Linked DNA regions of Homo sapiens. The protein of the gene in region 3 purifies or fractionates together with the protein of the main gene of each other region. This does not show direct contact. Each region holds a gene or a part of one and is shown on either strand. Other genes may lie near its edges.

Evidence for each region.
Region 1: the proteins of ASTE1 (region 3) and EPS8L2 purify together in Homo sapiens (affinity purification with mass spectrometry; 2 studies listed by BioGRID and IntAct, with this or other methods). This does not show direct contact.
Region 2: the proteins of ASTE1 (region 3) and USP47 purify together in Homo sapiens (affinity purification with mass spectrometry; 2 studies listed by BioGRID and IntAct, with this or other methods). This does not show direct contact.

Annotation. Positions count from the first base shown.
Region 1 is NC_000011.10:709,231-712,980, reverse strand, and holds part of EPS8L2 (epidermal growth factor receptor kinase substrate 8-like protein 2), read right to left. Parts: intron 3,652-3,750; 5' UTR 3,574-3,651; coding exon 3,530-3,573; intron 3,429-3,529; coding exon 3,373-3,428; intron 2,560-3,372; coding exon 2,495-2,559; intron 1-2,494. UniProt on the Homo sapiens protein: Stimulates guanine exchange activity of SOS1. May play a role in membrane ruffling and remodeling of the actin cytoskeleton. In the cochlea, is required for stereocilia maintenance in adult hair cells.
Region 2 is NC_000011.10:11,949,927-11,953,676, reverse strand, and holds part of USP47 (ubiquitin carboxyl-terminal hydrolase 47), read right to left. Parts: coding exon 3,673-3,750; intron 3,314-3,672; coding exon 3,195-3,313; intron 937-3,194; coding exon 806-936; intron 1-805. UniProt on the Homo sapiens protein: Ubiquitin-specific protease that specifically deubiquitinates monoubiquitinated DNA polymerase beta (POLB), stabilizing POLB thereby playing a role in base-excision repair (BER). Acts as a regulator of cell growth and genome integrity.
Region 3 is NC_000003.12:131,020,077-131,023,826, forward strand, and holds part of ASTE1 (single-strand DNA endonuclease ASTE1), read right to left. Parts: intron 1-3,750. UniProt on the Homo sapiens protein: Structure-specific DNA endonuclease that specifically cleaves single-stranded DNA and 3' overhang DNA.

The DNA.
Region 1 (3,750 bases), on a different chromosome or scaffold from region 3:
GTCCAGGAGCCAGGCTGAGAGGCCCCAGGCTCCTCCCGAAGAGGGCAGAGTCCCTGAGAAAGGTGGTGGAGCTGCCCAGGAAGAGGGGACTAAAGTGAACTCGGCCACTGCTCTGTGCCTTCCCCTGGACACTGAGCTGGCCGAAGTCACCAGCCTGGCTGTATGCAGGGTCTAGCTGCCCAGGCTGCTGGGAGGGCCCTGGTCACCCAAAACAGCCCGATTCAAGAGCTCAGGGACTCCTGATGGCTCTTTGGACCCATTGTACAGACGAGGAAACTGAGGCTCAAAGAGTAGTGACCTGTCTCACCTCTGCAGGTGTGGAGGACAGCAAGGGGGAACCAGGGGGCATTTTGGGCCCCCAGCCAGGGCTGTTTGTGGCAGAAAGGACTGGTCCTGCAGGAGGACCCAGCTCCAGGCTCCCTCACCCTCCCTCCTTTTCCTAGTCCTGTAGGCTTGGACCACAACCGGAAGCCCAGCTCGCACCCAGGCTTGGACGACAACCGGGAGCCCAGCTCGCACCCAGGCTTGGACGACAACCGGGAGCCCAGCTCGCACCCAGGCTTGGACGACAACCGGGAGCCCAGCTCGCACCCAGGCTTGGACCACAACCGGGAGCCCAGCTCGCACCCAGGCTTGGACCACAACCGGGAGCCCAGCTCGTACCCAGGCGCAGGGGCCTTTTTTTTTTTCCTTTTGAGATGGAGTCTCGCCCTGTCCCCCAGGCTGGAGTGCAGTGGCGCAATCCCGGCTCACTGCAACCTCCATTTCCCGGGTTCTAGTGATTCTCCTGTCTCAGCTTCCCAAGTAGCTGGGACTACAGGCTCCCACCACCACGTCCAGCTAAGTTTTGTAGTTTTAGTAGAGATGGGGTTTCACCATGTTGGTCAGGCTGGTCTCGAACTCCTGACGTCAGGTGATCCACCCGCCTCGGCCTCCCAAAGTGCTGGGATTACAGGTATGAACAACCGCGCCTGGTCCCTTTTTTTTTTCTCTTTTTTGAGATGGAGTCTCGCTCTGTTGCCCATGCTGGAGTGCAGTGGTGTGATCTCGGCTCACTGCAACCTCCGCCTCCTGGGTTCCAGTGATTCTCCTGCCTCAGCCTCCCGAGTAGCTGGGATTATAGGTATGCACCACGACGCCTGGCTAATTTTGTATTTTCAGTAGACATGAGGTTTTGCCATGTTGGTCAGGCTGGTCTCAAACTCCTAACCTCAGATGATCCACTCACCTCAGCCTCCCAAAGTGCTGGGATTACAGGCGTGAGCCACCGCGCCTGGCCTAAGACTCTGTTGCCCAGGCTGCTGGAGGGCCGTGGTGGGATCCTCCTGCCTGAGCCTCCCAAGTAGCTGGACTACGAGCTCACACTACCAGGCCTGGCTAGGAGGGGGGAGGATTGCTTGAGCCTAGGAGTTTGAGACCAGCCTGGGCAACATAGGGAGACTTCCATCTCCACAAAAAAATAAAATAATTAGATGGGCATGGTGGGGCCAGCCTGTAGGCCCAGCTACTGGGGAGGCTGAGGTGAGGGGATCACTTGAGTCCAGGAGGCGGAGGCTGTAGTGAGCCAAGATCGCACCACTGCACTCCAGCCTGGGCACCTGGGTGACAGAGCTAGACCCTGTCTCAAAATGAAAGAAAGAAAAGAAAAGAGAGAGACAGAGAGAGAGAGAAAGAAAGGAAGAAAAAAAGACACACACACACACACACACACGCACGCACGCACACACGCACACACGCACACAAAACCCCCCAAAAAAACATTTCCTGAGTTCTCCGTGTCAATGAAACTGACCTAGGAGAACAGAAAAGCCCTCAGGGCTGGCGGCTGGTCCGGCGCGTGCAGGCAGCCCCGTCTGAGCCCTGAGAAGCAGCCCGGGCCTCCCTGAATCCCCCATCAAGGGCGTCTTTGTTCTGCCTGCTCCCTCCCGATACAGTTCCTCGTTTTGGGGCCAGGATGATCATCTCCTCCAGGGGCTCTTCCCATCCAGGGCTGGGCAGCAGCCACAGTGTTTTCCCGGCACACCCTGGGCTGCCTCACCCCCCAGGCCGCGAGTTCCCAGGACTGGAACCAGAGGGGCGCTTTCCCCGGCCCCGTGGCTGAGCCCGGGACAGTGTGGGCAGTTCTGGCTCTGGCCTCCCCCGGCCCCGTGGGTGTCAGAAGCTGGGCTGACCACTCTCCCTGGAGCTTTCCTCCCTTCCTCCCTTCCTCCCTTTCTCTCTTTCTCTCTTTCTCTCTTTCGTTTTGAGACAGGGTCTAGCTCTGTCACCCAGGTGCCCAGGCTGGAGTGCAGTGGTGCGATCTTGGCTCACTACAGCCTCCGCCTCCCGGGCTCAAGTGACCCCCTCGCCTCAGCCTCCCCAGTAGCAGGGCCTACAGGCCGGCACCACCATGCCCGTCTAATTATTTTATTTTTTGTGGAGACGAGAACCTGAGGACAGCCATGTCCTGAGGGTGCTCCCTGGGGGCGGAGCCTACCTGGGGGCGGGGCCTTACCTGGACGTGGTACTGCGAGGTCTCGTGCATGATGACGTTGGAGTTGGAATACTTCTTCCTCTGCTCTGAACCGGGAGACACCAGTCACTCCCCCGACGGGCAGGACCCACAGCCTCCCGTCCAGTTGGGACTGGACCCACAAGGGAAGGTGGAGTCAAGCGGAGGGAGGCTGCTCCGTGGACCTCTTGGCCACCAGGAAGGATGTGGGTGTGAAATCAGGACCTGCAGGAAGCCCCCTCCCTCCCTCCAGGGAAGCCCCCTTGGAGAAGGACGCAGCTCGGAGAAGGCGATGGGCTTGCTCTGAGTGGAGTGGGGACCAGCAGCCTGTGCCCGGGGGGTTTCTGTCCCGGAGGGTGAGGGGACAGGAAGGGGGTCCCAGCCCGGCTTCTTCCCACTCTGAGAGCTGCCAGCTTCACTCTCCCTGCCCTCCCAGGTCTTCTCGCTTTCCAGACTAGGCACCTTGTCCAAAGACATAAGTGAAGGGTGCATCTAGCTAGCGAGAGGGCAGGGTCGTCTCTGGGGAAGGGCAGAGTGGGGGGAGGTGGGGGCTGGCCAGGCCCCCCTCCTGGAGCAGACACCTGGCGGCTTATCCTGCCTGAACCTCGCTGTGATCAGGTTACAGCAATGAGTGCAGCGGAATCAATATTGATGCTCCCTGAATTATTAGTAAAGGCCTCTCCCCTTACGGGTGTGGGGGAGGGGATCCAGTGGCCAGGAGCTTTCGGAAGGTTGATTAGGGTCCAGAGGCCTCCCTGGGCACCCGGAGATCCCCTGGGCCAGACCAGGCACAGCTGTGGGGCAGGAGCAGCTGTCCCCCACCTGGATGCAGTGCCCATTTCTCCCCTGTGACGTCCAGCCCGTTCTCAAACCTCACTCACCAAACAGGTCCTTGGGGCTCATCTTGGCCACACCGTCGGACCGGCCCAGGCTGCCACTGCAGGGGAGGGGCTGTCAGGGCAGGGCCAAACTGCACCCCTCCCTGGGGACTGTTCAGAGGGTGAGGGTGGGGTATTCGGGATGGGTGGGAGGGCTCACTTGGTGGCACCCGGGCAGCAGCTCACGGCCCCGGACTGGCTCATGGTGTCTTGGGTGGCGGCCAGCGGGAGAAGGGCAGACCTCAGTGTGGCCCCGGTCTGAGGCCAGTGCCTGTCCCACACCTGGGTGGACAGAAGGGCTGCGCTGACACTTCCTCCGGCCTGGCTGGTTCCTCCCCTCCTTCCCTGGGCCAGATCCCTGACTGGCCTGGCCTGGGTGGG
Region 2 (3,750 bases), on a different chromosome or scaffold from region 3:
TAAGGTAGTAGCTCCTTATAAATTATGGACAGCATGTTTAATAACTGCTTCAAATAATTTCCTCCTAGTTTATTGTCTTTTAGCTTTGTTTATGAGTTGCTTTTTAAATACCTTTTTCTTTGGCTATGCAGAGGATAGGTTTTTACGTGGTCTATAGTTTCTTTTTTTGGCTTCTGGTATTATGCTTACAAATATCTTTTTCCAGGAATATGAAAATATTTTTAGTATTTAATATTTTACATATTTTCACCTAGTACATTTACTTTTTTTATATATAAACTTAATACATTTAGAATTTATTTTTGTGTTTAGTATGAAGTATGGAAATAAATCTTTTTCAAAATGCTCATTGTGCTAGTACCACAGATTGACTAATTCACCCTTTCCCCAGAGATCCTTAGATATCCCATCTTAAAATGCAAAACAGACCTTCATCTGGATTCTCTACACAATTCGACTTCATTTGGTTTTTTTTAGACATAAAGCAATTCACTCTAGTAACTTCTAACTAATTCTAACTACTTAGGACAAAATTGGTCCAAGTAACAGAAAGTGAGGATCCACTTCTGAATGGCCAGGAGCCAAAGTAATTTTTCAAAGAATCAGGAGCCTGAACAACCAGAGTGTGCCACAAGGTGTGACAGAAACCAAAAAGAAAGGTTGCTGCACCAGTGTTTGGTACTACTTCCTAGGTTTTCTCTTACGCAACACAGGAAGAATGTATTGTTTATATATTATATATTTTATTAATATTATGATATACATATACAACATAAGATACATGTTTTGTTTAAAATGAACTTACCTTCTCTCGCAATTCGTCCACACTACTGCTTTCCAATACAACCTCCTGGAAGGGATCCAACTTCATCTCTGAAGGCTTCCACCGTCTTGACAAAACTGCAAGCTGTGACATGGACTTCATCTTCTCTACCCCTAAGAATATGCAAGATTAGGTCATCATTCTATTTCCTCTGAAGGTTCATAATTTGACTTTTCCCTTAGTGCCTTACTAAACAAAAAGATTTACTTCAAGTGTTACTCTTAAAAAGTGGGCACAAGAAAAAACCCAATTATCCCAAGGAGTTTTTGAGAATGAAATATTTACTCTCTTCTCTCCAGTCTCAGAAGATAATTCCTCTCTTCTTCAAACCAGTACTCCTAATTCCACTCCCTCCTGACTCCTGTTGAACACTGCATTACCAATTACTCTCTTCTCTGGATTTCCAATCTTTGTTTCTCTATTGGCTCCTATCCCTATCTAAAATCATAAACAAATCAACTTCACTTTATCCTCTTTTTTCACTAAAGCTATTATTAATCCTTCTCTTTCCATTTACTCCCCAATTTAGTGATTCTTCAAAATTGTCACTTTTCCATTATGTCACTTTTCAAGCATCAACTCAATTGTCACTTTTCAAGCATCAACTCAATTGTCACTTTTCTCTGGTGTACACAAGAAGAACTTCTACTGATTCAGTCCCTTAGTACCTATTATTTTAGAATGACAGGTTTGCAGTTCTGTTTCTTCCACAGACTGTGTGCACCAATAAGTGGTTCTTACTCATTTTTGTAGCACAAGGGATTAGCAGTGTCTGGCAAATTACAGGTCAATAAATACCTCTTGGATTTAATCACATGACATTTCTTACTCAACTATCTTGATGTGAAAATATACTGAAATAATACTGATGCAGGCACCCACCATCTAGTACCATTTTCAGATGAATCCATCTCTGCTAATACATACTCAATCCTTACAAGGGTGACTTCTTTGTCATTTATGATCTCTTCCTGACTTACCCAGGCACAGTGATTATTCCCTACGACCCCAGATACTCAAAGAAATCACAATCTGGAGCACTTGCCTACACACCATAGTAGATGGTATCCTAGTTGTTCCTTACCTCCCAACTTAACTTGTCAATTAATCAGAATTTCAACCATTTAAATTTATGGTTGAATTAGACCTGAAGCAGCCTGAAATACATGAGGTGTTAGTATTATTGAGCTCTCTAAAAACTAGGATAATCTTGTAACAAAATATCCAGAATTCATATTTTACTTTCTACAGAAGAAAAGGAAAATTAAAATTTTCCTAAGCAACAGCAAAAAAAGAATATAGAACTAGTTGTTTACCTTGATGTGATCTTCTAAAAGCCAACTTTCCTCCTATAAGCCTCCCTCCAAACACCAATACTTTAAATGTGCCAATGTTGATAACGAAAACTGGGAGGTGTGACAAGTATGTCTGCTACTTGGACCTCCTCAAGGTCACTGCTATGGGTTGAATTGTGCCCCCCACAAAAAGACATTTTGAAATCCTAATCCCTAGTACCTCAGAATGTGACCTTATTTGGAAATAGGGTCTTTCCAGTGATACTCAAAGTAAAATAAGGTCTTCAGGGTGGGCCCTAATACAATAGGACTAGTGGTTTATGAAAAAGGGGAAAACAATACAGACAGACAAGCCCACAGAAAGAACACCACATGAAGATGAAGGCAGAGACTGGGGTGATGTATCTACAAGCCAAGGTTGCCAATGATGGCCAAAAACCACAGAAGCTAGGAGAGAGTATGGAACAGATTCTCCCCCACAGCACTCAGAAGGAACCAACCCTGTTGACAGCCTGATCTCAGATTGTGAGACAATACACTTCTATTCTTTAAGCCACCTGGCTTAGGACACAAATAGTCATTGTTCTTGAGTCTCTGATAAATTATCAGTACCATGTCTTCAATACAAAATAAGCCATAATAGTAAAAAAGAAACTAAAGAACAAACGTGGCTAAGAAAATATTAGCAGAGTTTTCTTAAAATGTATTAAAAACCTAACTTTGTAATTTCCTCATAAGGGGGAATTAATATTCTCAACATTCAAAAAAAGAATACTTAAAAGGCAAATGGGAACCAGAGAAAGATAGCAGAAGGCTGAAAGACACTGATTATTCTTTCAAAAACAACTTAAGCAGTTACATTAGGACACAGGGGAAGAAAATAAAACTCCCAAGGATAAGACGTAGGTAGGAATCACATCAATCCATAATAAGGATATCGTTATGCTTAATATAACACAAAACACTATAATGTATATTAGATTCCTCGTAACTCATTATTTGATTAAAAACTATAGGCTTCTATTAGTTCTAGAGTATTTCTAACTGATACTTCCCCCCAAAAATATTGAAAATACCATCAAGAACTTCAAGGAAAACCTCCCAGTTGCTGGAAATATTAATATCTTCTTCATAAATATGATAATCCAAAAAGACAGTGCCAGGATTCTTCCATGTTTTTTTCCTTAGACGAAACCTACAAATGTGATAAGACATTTAAAACGACTATAATTTGAAACTCTCAATTTAAAGATTGACACTAATCTGACACCAAAGAAAAATGAACTATGTTCAAATACAAAAGTCAAATAATGAGTTGTTAAAATCTGGGGAAATAAAGAAATGTTTCCAGTAATTCAAATTTAGAATTCTGTATAGGAAATCCAAACAAAATTTTAATACTCTTGTTTAGTCCTATTAAACTAATCTGTCATACTAAAATTCTGAATAGCACAGGAAATTTTAATTCTCCTAGTTTTAGAAAATCATACCAGTCCATTTCAACTGACCACATAGTCTTTCTTCAAATCGCTGATGACATTAATTTTACTTTACCTGTCAATACTGAGCTCTAAACCACATTGCTCCCTGAGCTGAGGAATTAATTCCTCTTTTGATTGCCGTACAGTCATT
Region 3 (3,750 bases):
CAAGTTACAACTTTTCATAAACAAAGCAGTCTGGGCTTTGACTTCAGAGATGTTCCGCTCTGCACTAACCCTATGGCTTTGGTCGAAAGGTTTCTGACCTTTTCTACAGTCTGTCTGACTTATCTGTAAAATGGTCATTATAATGACTTGTATAAGATGTTTCATCAAACCCACCAGTCCACAGTCCCTTCCAAAAGGGGAAGTACTCAACTCACAGCCCTTAACGTTAGTTAGGTTTTATCCCATGTGACAACTACTTTCCCTCTTCCCCAGGGGGAGCGAAAGCACAAGCCTGCAGAAGCAGCTGCCCCGAGAGGCAGAGATGCCCAGAGAGAGACTGGTCTTGGCTGCCTTACTCCTTAAGAATGATCCACTTTTGTGTCTCCTTATGATTAACCTCCCATTGGTTAACTTGAATGGTGCTCTGTCCATTGCAACTAACATAACCAAAATGAAACCCTATCCCATGTGGTTATTGTGGGAATTAAATGAGAGACTATAAAGTTTTTATTAACAACAGCTGGCCAAAGCAGATAATGTATTACAAGATCTAAAAAACAAAATGAATAGGTACTATCACAAGGTTTCTATACTTGTACTTGCATTTGTGTTTGGAATCACATGAGCACCTGGTACATTTATAATTTTCAGGGGCTAATTAGAACCATTAGCACTGAGCTAAATTCAGAATTGATAAGTTTATGCCAAGAGAAAGCTGGGTGATAGCAGAGCGCAGAGAATGAACTAAAATTTCACTCTATTTTGAATCCAGGTAAATGATGAGAACACTTAAGTCATCTCTACTTAGCAAGGAATATAAGCAGCCTGCTATACTCATGGATTCAGTTGGATTTCCATGTGGGGGGAAAAGGTATCCTGATCCCTATTTCACACCATACGCACCCACAAAAAACCAATTCTAGATACATTATAGATCTAAATGTGAACAGCAAAAAAACATTTTCATGACCGTGGAGTAGGCAGTTTCCTAAGCAGTTCACAAAAGTGGTAACCATAAATAATAAAAATTTAAATTAGAGTATATTAAGAACTTCTGTTCATCAAAACATACTAAAGAGTGAATAAACAATGGGAGAGACTATTCACAATATGTTATTTGACAAAGGACCCGTATATGATAAAAATGAGCAAAAAACTGTACAGAAACTTCATATAATAGAGTATCACATGGCTAATGAACACATGGAAATGGAAGATTGGAAAGAACCCAAATGCTCATAAGCTGTGTAATGAAAAAAAATGTTCTTAAGTGTATAATGGTAATATACCAAAATAGAAAAATGTTACAGCAATGAGAAATGAATGATCAACTACTCACAGCAATGTGAATGAATCTCATGTGGAATAAAAGCCAGATGAAAGAATTCATTTCTAAAGTAATAATTCAGTTAAAACTATTGTGTTGTTAAACAGGAGAGTGATTATAGAGAGTTGCAGAGCGAGTGACTGGAACCAGACACTAGGAGAAGCTTCTAGGGTGGCGATAATGATTCATCTGGATCTTCTTTGCATGGATGTATAGACCTTGCAAAAATTTATCATGCTGTACGATTATTTGGGCACTTTACTGTGTTTATACTCAAGGAAGCATGAATTGCAAAGGAACAAGATGAAACTTTAGGGGTTATGGATACATTGATTATTTTAATTGTAGGATGACTTCACAGATGTAGACATCTCAAAACTCATCAAAGTACACACTTTATGTGCACTTTACTGTACACTACTTATTTCTCAGTAAAGCCATTACATTTTTTTTAAAAAACTCCCCAACAGCACCATTTATGCTTGAGTAGAAATGTAATTTCAGCAAAACATTAATAATGTAGCTAGTTTGAATTTTATTGGTGTGGGTAAAGTTTTAATAAATCCCTTGTTTGAGACTGACTTACGCTCCACTTTCTAGTTTTGTACCCCTGGAAATGTGCTAAAGGTAGATTGTCAGTTGTGTTACCAAGCATTATAAAAATGACTTATAAAATTGCATCTAAGCTTAAACTATATATAAATGAACTATAAACACCTGATGGGGACACCATATCTTGGGGCTTCCCTGAGTGCAGTGTCTTGTAAGTAGGATGTCCCTTGCAGGGACCTAGCTATGTTTATGGAATTATTATAAGAAAGACTGGATCCTATAGGGAACGGGGCTTTTAAGCTACTGAAACCTTTTCTTCTCCTTTATCTAACTGAGGTATAATTCATATGTCATAAAAGTCATCCTTTTAAAGCATACAATTCAGTGGGTTTAGTGTATATATATTTTTAGAGACAGGGTTTTGCTCAACAGGGAGCACAATCATAGCTCACTACAGGCTTGACCTCCTGGGCTCGAGCAATCCTCCAACCTCAGCCTCTTGAGTAGCTGTACCACCATGCCTGGCAAAAAATTTTTTTTTTTTTTTTTAGTAGAGACAGTCTTGTTGTGTTGCCCAGGCTGGTCTTGAACTACTGGCCTCAAGTGATCCTCCCACTTTGGCCTTCCAAAGTGCTGGGCTTACAGGCATGAGCCATCTTGCCTTGGTTTAGTATATTTATAAACTTGTGCAGCCATCACTAATTCCAAAACATTTTCTTCACCCCCAACCAAAGAAACCCTGGGGGTTTAACAGTCACTCGCCAATGCCAAGAAGGCTCTTGGACTCACTGCCCAATGCCAAGAAGGCTCTTGCACTCATTCACTATGACATTCATCTCCTCCTGTCTGAGATGTGACTGAAGAGGAGGCTAAGAGGCTAGTTCCTGGTCAGCTGTATAGCCCAGGGAATGGCACTACTGATATTTTGGGCTAGAGATTCTTTGTTATGGGACACTTTCCTGTGCACTGTAAGACTTACAGGTTGTAAAATTTAGCAGCATCTTTGGCCTCTCCCCACTAGATACCGATAGCAACCACTACCCCTTCTACTCCCTAGGTAGGGACAACAAAAATGTCTCCAGGCATTGCCAGATGTCCTCTGGGGGACAAAATCACCAATGGTGATAAAGCTTTGGTGTAGACTGATAACAGTGCTGGGAGAACTCTGACAGAAAAGGAAGACCTGACTTAAATCCACTGGGAAGCTGTGGTTGCCGTCCTACATCCTTAAGTAGACTGGTGCCACGTGTGGTCTGTGAGTTTTGTGAGACTGAATATTTCATTGGATCTAAGAAGATCCCCTAATGGGCATTGCAATTGTTTTTTTTTTAAGTTATCTCTATTTAATGTCTAAATCTAGTTCTTTTATCAGCATAGTTTCATATCTATTTGTAATTTTAAATATATATGTAATATAAAAAGACAACACTGGGATCCATGAGAATTTTTTTCTCCTTGAAAAGGTGGTCTGGGTGTTACTCAGGTTTAAGCAACACTAAGTTAGACTAAGAGTCATGTTTTCTGTATCAAACTAGGCAAATAACCATAATGACACAAAAACCTATTTTAAAAAAGGTATTCATTAATAAAAGTTAAAAAATTAGACCTTAGCATCAGTACTAACCTTATCTGAAATCCGATGTAGTCTGAGATGTTGTGCCTATGATTAGTGTCTATACACTTTTTTTGCAGTTGTGAATTTTTTTCCTTTTTTTTTCAGCCACGTAACCCATTCTATTGATAGCTAGTATTAACCTGGTAGTAATAACAATATAGTAGTAATAACTGTGACGATAACACAGACTACTGAAGTACAGTGGAAATGGTAGATTTAGAGCTAAAAGAGCTAGGTTTGAGTCCTAGCACTGACA